Linked DNA regions of Homo sapiens: region 2 is linked to region 1. Evidence: fine-mapped expression QTL. Tissue or cell type: whole blood. Region 1 holds a variant in brackets; the other region holds the start of a gene. Each region is shown on its reference strand, or each on the opposite one. Region 1 overlaps SLFN14 (schlafen family member 14). Region 2 holds the start of TNFSF4 (TNF superfamily member 4).

Evidence for each region. PIP is the estimated chance that this variant, and not a neighbour inherited with it, causes the effect. A credible set is the group of variants that fine-mapping cannot tell apart.
Region 2: it holds the start of TNFSF4, and the variant in region 1 is the best candidate, but not a certain one, in a credible set for the expression of TNFSF4 in whole blood (TOPMed, PIP 0.77).

What each region holds. Positions count from the first base shown.
Region 1 is chr17:35,555,258-35,560,791 of GRCh38, reverse strand. SLFN14 (schlafen family member 14) reads left to right here. Exons shown (of 6, transcript NM_001129820.2): 1 at 1-25; 2 at 987-1,065; 3 at 2,686-3,789. The coding sequence starts at 2,730. It overlaps LOC107985033 (a long non-coding RNA gene), which reads right to left. Exons shown (of 2, transcript NR_138032.1): 2 at 5,243-5,534. Among named protein-coding and RNA genes, the nearest start is that of SLFN14, 2.8 kb to the left of the region's middle. The variant A/G (reference allele first, on the strand shown) is at 3,007.
Region 2 is chr1:173,205,446-173,210,445 of GRCh38, reverse strand. TNFSF4 (TNF superfamily member 4) reads left to right here and starts at 3,115. Exons shown (of 3, transcript NM_003326.5): 1 at 3,115-3,422. The coding sequence starts at 3,270. RefSeq lists an enhancer at 3,124-3,183.

The sequences.
Region 1 (5,534 bases):
AGCAAGAGGAAACACAGGAGCATAGGTAAAAAAAAAAAAAAAAATTCTTAAAAATATCTCATTTATCTAATTTTAGGTGCAGTCTACATCTGAGGGCATGAGGGATTAGTAAAATAGTATTTAGGGAAAATTTGTAAAGGAAAATGAATAAAAAATTCTGGGAAGGCCTGGCGTGGTGGCCCGTCCCTATAATCCCAGCACTTTGGGAGGCTCAGGTAGGTGGATCACCTGAGGTCAACAGTTCGAGACCAGCCTGGCCAACATGGTGAAACCCCATCTCTACTAAAAATACAAAAATGTATCGAGAGTGGTGGCTCTTGCCTGCAGTCCCAGCTACTCTGGAGGCTGAGGCAGGAGAGTCACTTGAACCTGGGGGACGGAGGTTGCCATGAGCCAAGAGATCGTGCCACTGCACTCCAGCCTGGGCACAGAGCAAAACTCTGTCTCAAAAAAAGAAAAAAAAGTCCTGGGAAATGTGGAAAGGATATTCATCTCGAGCTAGAATCTCAGTAAATGTTGTATTTATCATAATTGTTATCAGCATTCAAATAACATTGATGAGACTTACGAGTCACGAGACCATAGGGTTTGCTATTCAAAATCAATTAGATTTGTTTTGTGGGTCCCATCAGTGGAAGTTATGGGGAGACAAATTGCAGCTTAAAGTAAGGAGACCATTTCTAACACAGACGTCAGAAATTAGAAGGGACTAGAGGGACTATTTGATAGGTAGTGAGTTGCTCATTGCTGGAGGTTTGCAACTTGTTGGGAGTTGGCAATATTATAGAGGAGATTTTAGAATCCTATAGATTGTTGGACTGGAGGATCTTTAAAGTCCTTTCCAACACTTCTGTGATTCTATGATATAAATAGAATGTTATGGGAAATTTCCCTAAGGAGCCATAAAATACTACATTTACATGTACCTATAGAAGAGGCTCACATTCTAAAAAGAATTCCCCAGGTTGATTCTGGTTTTCCTGAAGGAAGTGAGAAGGCAACCAAGAACAAATTGATATCAGGGGAGTGCACATGTCTTGCCGGATGCCTGCTTTCTTCCTCTTGGTGAGTATATACAATGCCCACAGGGCCCCTGCTTTGCAAAGATCACACAGAAAGATGGGTTCTCTTCTCCTAGAGGAAGAATTTTGGTTGAGTTAGCAAATATTTTGTTTTGCAATTGACTAAAGGTAAGCAGATCTTTTCTGAAATATTTGTTTCAGAGCTCAAATTTCAGTTTAGGTGGCTGTTTTCTGGTCTAGGAAGCAAAAGAAGGGTGACAATGGTTTAGTTACCATGCCCCAAAAGCTCATGTTCTTTTCCAAGTCTTAGGGGTTTCCACAGCACAGGGCAGAACTATTAGAAGGGAAGGAAAATGCTGCTGTCACATCACACTGTATATGAGGCAATGTACTTTTGAGATTTAGAACATGTGAAGAGTTGAAAAGGTTTCTGCATTTGGTATCAACTGACATTCTTTCAGGAGTAAAATAAAGCTTTTCAAAGTGTATGAAATAATACATAAAAATATAGAATTTTATTTATTTACTTTTATTTTTATTTTTTTAGACAGGTTCCCACTCTGCTGCCCAGGCTGGAGTGCAGTGGTGCGATCATGGTTCACTGCAGCCTCAAACTCCTGGGCTCAAGAGATCCTCCCACCTCAGCCTCCTAGGTAGCTGGGACTGCAGGTGCGCACCACCATACCTGCCTAATGTTTAACATTTTTTTTTTTTTTATCTTTTGTCGAGATGGGGTCTTGCTATGTTGTCCACGCTGGTCTCAACTCCTGATCGAAAGCAATCCTCTCACATCCACCTCCCAAAGTGCTGAGATTACACATGTGAGCTACCACACCCAGCCTATGTTTGTGTTTATAGCAAGATCTTCTACAGTACATATACTGTAAAATTATACTTCCTTAGTTCTCTAGTGCCTTCCTTTCTTCCCCTTTTGAATTATAAATAAGAGCATCTTCTCACTTCAACTTCTATTTCTGCATATTCTCCAATACCTTCCTGGGCTCCTGTGCCAACCCATGCCCTTTATATCTGGGCTCAGTGTTGGCGTTTCCTGATTTGAAATGCAAAATGGCTGAAAATGTTAGCAATTTAATTTTTCCATTATGACAAATATTAGGCATTCACCTTTATCCATGCCTACTTATTCTGGCAAGGCTAAGGATATTTGGCAAAGTGATTAGAAAACAGCAGTATCAAAGATAATTTCCAGTTGGGTGCGGTGGCTCACATCTGTAATCCCAGCACTTTGGGAGGGAGGCCCAGGCAGGAGGATTGCAACGTAGCAAGACTCCATCTCTTAAAAAAAAAAAATAGCAAGAACAAAAAAGAAAAAAAAAATTAGCCAGGCTTGGTGGCACGTGTCTGTAGTCTCATCTACTAGGGAGACTGAAGTTGGAGAATCACTTGAACTGGGAGGTTGAGGTTGCAGAGAACTATTATTGTGCCACTGCACTCCAACCTGCATAACAGAGCAAGATTCTATCTCAAAAACAAACAAACAAAACTAAAAAACCCAAAACAAACAACAACAACAAATATACATATAGAGAGAGATGACTTCCAACATTAAAATATATCTCCAGTAATTGATAGTTTTGAAGAAAATATTGTAATCTTTGGAATTCTTATTAATATAGAAACAATATTTCTGTCCTGATTATAGGAACTCCTTTCTTTTATTGTTTGGAGCACAGAGGGGCTGCTGAAATGGAGAGTCTCAAGACTGATACTGAAATGCCGTATCCTGAGGTAATAGTAGATGTGGGCAGAGTGATTTTTGGAGAAGAAAACAGGAAGAAGATGACCAACAGCTGTTTGAAAAGATCTGAGAATTCTAGAATTATCCGGGCTATATGTGCACTGTTAAATTCTGGAGGTGGTGTGATCAAAGCAGAGATTGATGATAAAACCTATAGTTACCAATGCCATGGGCTGGGACAGGATTTGGAAACTTCTTTTCAAAAGCTCCTTCCTTCAGGTTCAC[A/G]GAAATACCTTGACTACATGCAGCAGGGGCACAATCTCCTGATTTTTGTGAAGTCATGGAGCCCAGATGTTTTCAGCCTTCCACTAAGGATTTGCAGCTTGCGCTCCAATTTGTATCGGAGAGATGTGACTTCTGCTATCAACTTGAGTGCTAGCAGTGCCCTGGAGCTTCTCAGAGAGAAGGGGTTTAGAGCCCAAAGAGGAAGACCAAGGGTGAAGAAGTTGCATCCTCAGCAGGTTCTCAATAGATGCATTCAGGAAGAGGAAGATATGAGGATATTGGCCTCAGAATTTTTTAAAAAGGACAAACTCATGTATAAGGAGAAACTCAACTTTACTGAGTCAACACATGTTGAATTTAAAAGGTTCACCACCAAAAAAGTCATACCTCGGATTAAGGAAATGCTGCCTCATTATGTTTCTGCATTTGCCAACACTCAAGGGGGATATGTCCTCATTGGGGTGGATGATAAGAGCAAAGAAGTGGTTGGATGTAAGTGGGAAAAAGTGAATCCTGACTTACTAAAAAAAGAAATCGAAAACTGCATAGAAAAATTGCCTACATTCCACTTCTGCTGTGAGAAGCCAAAGGTAAATTTCACTACAAAAATCCTGAATGTGTACCAAAAAGATGTCCTGGATGGTTATGTCTGTGTGATTCAAGTGGAGCCCTTCTGTTGCGTGGTGTTTGCAGAGGCCCCAGATTCCTGGATCATGAAAGACAATTCTGTCACACGGCTGACAGCTGAGCAGTGGGTGGTCATGATGCTGGATACTCAGTCAGGTAAAGGGAAGTGAAGTCATTGTCCCCATCAGCAGGGAGGAACCCCTTTCTCTGCCTTTTGTGGGTATTTGATCACATATGTTAGTTAAAAAATAGAAATTTATTTTTCTTATAAGTGTTCTCCCATTACAGTGTTCCTTATCTAACATTTTTAGTTCCAAAGACTCAGAATATAAACTGAGGTCAAGAAATGTTTGGATTCTATGGCCTAAACAACTTTTTTTTCTTTAGACTCTGTCACCCAGGCTGGAGTGCAGTGGTGTGACCTCGGCTCACTGCAAACTCCACCTCCCAGGTGCAAGTGATTCTCGTGCTTCAGCCTCCCAAGTAGCTGGGATTACAGGCACACACCACCATGTCGGCTAATTTTTGTATTTTTAATAGAGATGGGGTTTTGCCATGTTGCCCAGGCTGGTCTTGAACTTCTAACCTCAAGTGATCAACTCACCTCCACCTCCCAAACTGCTGGGATTACAGGTGTGAGCCACCACTCCTGGCCAGCCTAAGCAACTTTTAAAGGAAAGTTACAGTATGCCATCAGCAATGAGTTAGGAAAGGTCTCCTTTTATTGTCTATAAACCTGTTGAAAAAATTGTGCAGGCTGATCATCCCAGTCAAAATTGGAATAGCCTCATTTTAGAGATGATATTCTAGAGAAACACTGTTTAAGAATAACTCTGAGGCTGGGCGCAGTCCTAGCACTTTGGGAGGCCAAGGTGGGCAGATTGCCTAAGCCCAGGAGTTTGAGACCAGCCTGGCCAAAATAGCGAAGCCCTATCTCTCCCCCAAATATAAAAATTAGCCAGGCGTGGTGGTGTATGCCTGTAGTCCCAGCTACATGGGAGGCTGAGGTGGGAGGATTGCTTGAGCCTGGGAGGTGGAGGTTGTAGTCAGCCAAGATCACTCCACTGCACTCCAGCCTAAGCAACAGAGCGAGACCCCGTCTCAAAAAAATAAATAAATAAAAATAAAAAAATAAAAATAAATGACTCCACTACTCCACTAATTCTTTCAAGCAAAACATTGTTGACAAATTTGAATTGTTTCAGTAACATTAGGAGCTAATAACCTTAAGCCACTGGGCTTAGGGCACCACCAAGTGGGGGAAAATGATGCAAAAGGAGATGCTAGGGCAAGGGGGTGCTGGGGGGAGCAGGACCCCTGGTGTTCTCACTTACCTTTCAGTTTTGATTGGAATCAGCCTTGGTGATTCCTAATCAATCCATAAAGGACTATAGGCCGAACTACGCCTATCTGCTTGCCTTCACGGCCAGTATGTTCCAGATTTCATCAAAACTTGAGTGATTGGAGAATTTTATTGGGTCATTCTTTCTCTTAATTTGTTTGAGTTCACTTCTCTTCTCCTCTCCCCTAAAGATCCTGCCACTTTTGATTCCATCTAACCTTAGATGGGGACATAAACAACTGTAACAACATTTTTTTTTTTTTTTGAGACAGGGTCTTGCTTTGTCGCCTAGGCTGGAGTGCAGCGGCACGATCTCAGCTCACTGCAGCCTCCGCCTCCCAGGTTCAAGCAATTCTCCCACCTCAGCCTCCCGAGCAGCTGGGATTACAGGCACACCACCACGCCCAGCTAATTTTTGTATTTTTTTGTATTTTTTTTTTTTTTTGAGACGGAGTCTCGCTCTGTCACCCAGGCTGGAGTGCAGTGGCGCTATCTCGGCTCACTGCAAGCTCCGTCTCCTGGGTTCACCCCATTCTCCTGCCTCAGCCTCCCGAATAGG
Region 2 (5,000 bases), not on the chromosome of region 1:
GCCCTCACTCCTGGCCCAACAGGCACTGCCCCTCCCCAGTGCCCCAGATGGCCAGACTGCTTCTCGTTTCTCCCAGATCAAGGAAGCTGTTCCTGTCCTAATTCCAGTGTAGATTAGCACCTGTCCCCCTGCACCCTTCCCTTCTGCACTGATACCTAGGACCCAGAACTTTCCAGGTTGTGGAGATTCCGCTTTCCTGTCTGTGACCTCCCTGAGGACTAAAAATGTGTTTTGTTTGTGTCTTTTCCTCTAGTATTTGGCTCAGTCTTGTTGAATGGACAAATGAAAATCTGACTTAGAGATAAATGAAAAATGTAGATTTTTTTTATCACCAAAAAACCCCAAAACCAAAACCCAGACACCAAAAAATCCAAACAACAACAAAACCCTCAAACCAAAGAAAAAAAAAAAACCCAAATGTTTTTTGCTTCTTTCTGAACATGAGGTATCTTGTGAGTGGTCAAAGCCCTTTTCTTTTCCATATTTTCTGTAGTCTTGAAATGGCTATTCATTTAGGAGGTTAATAGTCTATGGGAAGATAATTACTTTGGTTTATTTTACATCCTGTGGCTTTATTTTAAGGCTGATTTGCTCTGGTGTGCTTATGTATTTAATATTTGTGAGATACTTTAAGAAAAATTGCCACCAGGCTTGGTGGCTGATGCCTATAAACCCAGTGCTTTGGGAGGCCAAGGCAGGAGGATTGCTTGAGGCTAGGCATTTGTGACCAGCCTGGGAAACATAGGGAGTCTCTACAAGAAATTTTAAAAGAAATTAGCCAGACCTGGTGTTGCGTGTCTATAGTCCTAGCTACTTGGGAGGCTGAGGCAGGAGGATCGCTCAAGCCCAGGAGTTCCGGATTACAGTGAGCTATGATTGTGCTACTCTACTCCAGCCTGGGCAACAGAGTGAGACCCTGTCTCTAAAATAAATAAATAAATGCAAATGAAAAAAATTGCCCATAGATTTAGTAACGTATTTGACCCCTTTAAAAACAATTAAGCTTTATTTTTTGAAAAACGTTTTGAAGATGGAGGACTCTGCTTATGTGCCTGAGACTGAAAGGTCAGCAATGATAACTCTAATAGTGATTTCATTTGTTCAAATGCTAGACTAGCCCAGTGATGAACTTTGGAATGCCTAGATAGTCTATCAGAAATCTGTGCCTGAAACTTCCAGCCTGGTGTGTGTGTATCTCTTCCCACAAAGAATGTGAAGAGCTGTGAAAACGTGTTCAATAAAAAAAGAGACAATTAAGTGTAAAATATCACTTAAACATCAACAAAAATTACAACTAGGCAAAATATGGTAGTAGGACGACAAGACAATAAAAATGAGAGGTGTGTCATCCAAGTGTTAGCCTAAATGTGGGTAGAGATGACTCTGTGCAAAGATTTTTCTTTCTCGGAGCCATGATATTAACACTGAGAAGAAATGCTGCTTAAGGTACAAGTATGTGCATGGTAAATGTTTATTTTTTTCATTCTTTTGACAGTAATTTAAAAATGTTATCTACGATTTTCAGCATGAATAGTTTTTACTACTTTTTCAGCTTATTTCTAGTTTCCAATAGTATTTATGGCTTTTTTTTTTTTTGCTGTGACTCTTAGTCATTTTTTGAAAATTGACGAGTAAATAGTTACTGATTTTAATACTCTTTTATGAAGAACTATTACACAAGAATTGGGCTTTACACACTGATTTTTCCTTCAGCTTTTTTCTCCACACCCTGTATGTAACACAAGCTTTGTTCAAGGGAATAACTATGACAAATATGTTTGGATACAATTTGATTTCTAGTTTTGGCTTGGAGTCTATGATATTGTGCCTTAGTTACCTTATCTTTCAGATAAAACTTAAATTTCTCAACACCAGTATGTTCTCCTAATGCAAGGCATAATTATTGTAGTGAAGGTATTAATTCATATTTTAATTGATTAATACTGTAGTCATAAATGTACTTTACATTTCCCACAAACTTTCTCTTTTAAGTATGCCTCATTTCCATTTTTTCTGTGAAGTGGTATAACAACTCATACTGTCAATATCCAAAATATTTCTCCCTCCTTTCTTTACATATCTGCTGGGTGCCTCATGGGGAGCTGAGAGAGACATACTTGGCCACAAAGAGAGACAATTCCGTCTTAAACAGCTTTTCCCCAGCATCCTTATGTTGTCCAGTACAGTGCCAGGCTCATGTGATGTACTCAGTAAATATTTGCCCATTTGAACTTTACATTATAAGTAATTTTATCATTTATTTCATTTCATTGTTTATTTTAGTGGTAAAGGGTACCTGGTGTCTATTGATAGAATACTCTTACTTTCCAAGTTCTGAGGCCAGCCACGACCTCAAAGAAAGAAATAATCTTCAAAGCTTATTTACATCTATTCATTTGTTCATTCATGGAAAAATTATGTACGGGAAAAATGTGAAGTGGAAGGAAAGGAGACAAGGATACCCTTCTGCTTCTTTTCTGGTATGCAGAAAATTAATCATATAATTGTTTATTGAATTTGCCTCAAAGGGTTAAATGAGAGAAAGATTGCAAGTCCATCTAACACAGTGTCTGACACATAGTAAATGCTTCCAAAAGGTAGTTTATTTTTATGCAATAGACTACAACCAAGGATCTCTCCTTTACTTCTGCATGACCCAGTGTCCTATTTTCTTGTTTTGTCTTTTTCATTCAAGAATGATCTGTGTGTGCTTTCTTTCTGAATCTGTGAGAGGGGTTCAATGTTTAGTTACATAGTAAAGTGCAGATAAGAACCTTGGGCCAGCATTTCCCCTAAATCTTTTCTATGATTTAAGACACCTTGGGGAAGGGATATATGAGCTGCTACATTAACGGATGATGATTTTTATCTTTACCAAGTGACCCACAATTTGTTACTGGTGCAATAAGTTAAGAAAATAGCATACTTTTATGACTGTCATTTCACAGTCACTCAAATCAGAACTGGAATGTCACAAAAACAACTCCCTGTTAGCCCAGAGGAAAAAAAAAAAGAAAGAAAGTAAAGGGGAAATTCAGATTAGTCACAAAGAAGTTCCCCCGCCTGCCTGCAAAAGTTGCAGCGTTAAAACTGAGAGAGTCCGCTTTGCTCTTTCAATCGCCTTTTATCTCTGGCCCTGGGACCTTTGCCTATTTTCTGATTGATAGGCTTTGTTTTGTCTTTACCTCCTTCTTTCTGGGGAAAACTTCAGTTTTATCGCACGTTCCCCTTTTCCATATCTTCATCTTCCCTCTACCCAGATTGTGAAGATGGAAAGGGTCCAACCCCTGGAAGAGAATGTGGGAAATGCAGCCAGGCCAAGATTCGAGAGGAACAAGCTATTGCTGGTGGCCTCTGTAATTCAGGGACTGGGGCTGCTCCTGTGCTTCACCTACATCTGCCTGCACTTCTCTGCTCTTCAGGTAAGATGCACCACTGGGCGCTGTTTTCCCACCAGCTCATGCTGATGGCAGCTGCAACAGCTGCAAACAGTCGCTTGGAAATAATCTTATGCCAAAAGTGTTGAGTTTTTTTTCCCTCTCCCCACAGCAATCGTAAAGTGTGGTTAAACGCCCTTCTGTCTCTCCTTTCCTTCCTTCTTTTCAGCAGTGGCAGTGGTAGGGCAGAGTGGAGGTAGGGCAGAGGCACAGCTTCTAGATCTTTTTCTTTTTCTTTGCAATGCAAGATTCCTTGTATCCCTTTATAAGCTGTCACTTTGAAGCTTTGAGTCACTGATATACCTGGTCTACCCATTGTGATAGTAATGTGTTTGATCAGGCAATTAATATTAAAAGGAAATAGGAAAGAGACCAGTTCCACTTTCCCATAATATTCATATACCCTATAGACCTGCAAGGTGATTTTCTTTGTAAAGAATGCTGAAGGTATCAATATTAATAGCGGAGCAATGTGTGCGTGCATGTGTGTGTGCCTATGTGCTCACTCATTCACCCCAATGATTTAATCAGATATTGTTTCTCACAATCTATCTCTTCCAGTCATAATTTAAAGACATCATTTCACCTTTTCCCTACCTTATTAAATACATCATGTAGTAGGAGATTATCCTTCTAGTATTTTCCCCATATAGTTAAAATATTTCCATTTTTCTTTCACTTTATTCTTGTTCCACACTTCTCTCTTTTGCATTATTTTTTCTTATTCAGTAGTTCAGATATACAAACATTATTAGGTATTTAAGGATGTTCTTCACTGCAGAAGATGCCACTGGAGAAAAATAAATCTATACTCTCTTCGTGTTCCTTTGTTGAGCTAGTCTGATAATCTTGTTTTCTAGGTGGTTGCTTTGGGTTAGAAATGTTTCTCCCTGATAAAGTTCAGGTAATACAAACTGATTTCTGATGGTCTTGTCTGAGATTAAGCACCTCCAATGAAACCAGAATGAGATGAGCAGTCTTGGCAAATGCCTGGGCTTGTTTCTGCCTACAGGAAATAGGGTTTTCAGTGCATGGAGGCTGGTAAGAGTGTGTGTGGTTATGATCACTGTACCACAGACAGTGCTTGTGTCTCCAAATTCCAGAAGTGTAGCTAGTGTCATGCTCAGGTCTGCAGAACAGTGAGCACAACAACACATTGATCCTCTCCTCATCACACCACACTCTTATGTCTTCTCGCAGAACTCTTTGGGTGAAATTAAAGTAGGCGACTCGGGGAGAGGGTGTGGGGGAAGAGTAAGGTGTCCATGGCAGGATGCCCAAGACATCGACCGGATGCCCAAGACATCAACCGGAATTAGGCTCTTTTGAGAAGAAAACAAAGAGAGTAACCAAATATAGAACAGCTGAGTGCATTCACCAGTCTGGGAGCCCTGAGAGTGCTTTTTCTAACAACCACAGTGTTACATATTTCCTTACACCATGGGATGATAAAACACAGGACACATGGCTCCATTCAAGGCTAACTGATTGCACAACGGCTCTGAGCAGGAGAGAGCAAAAGGTGAACCACAGTTGTACAGCTTGCTGGTGGTTGGGGTCACA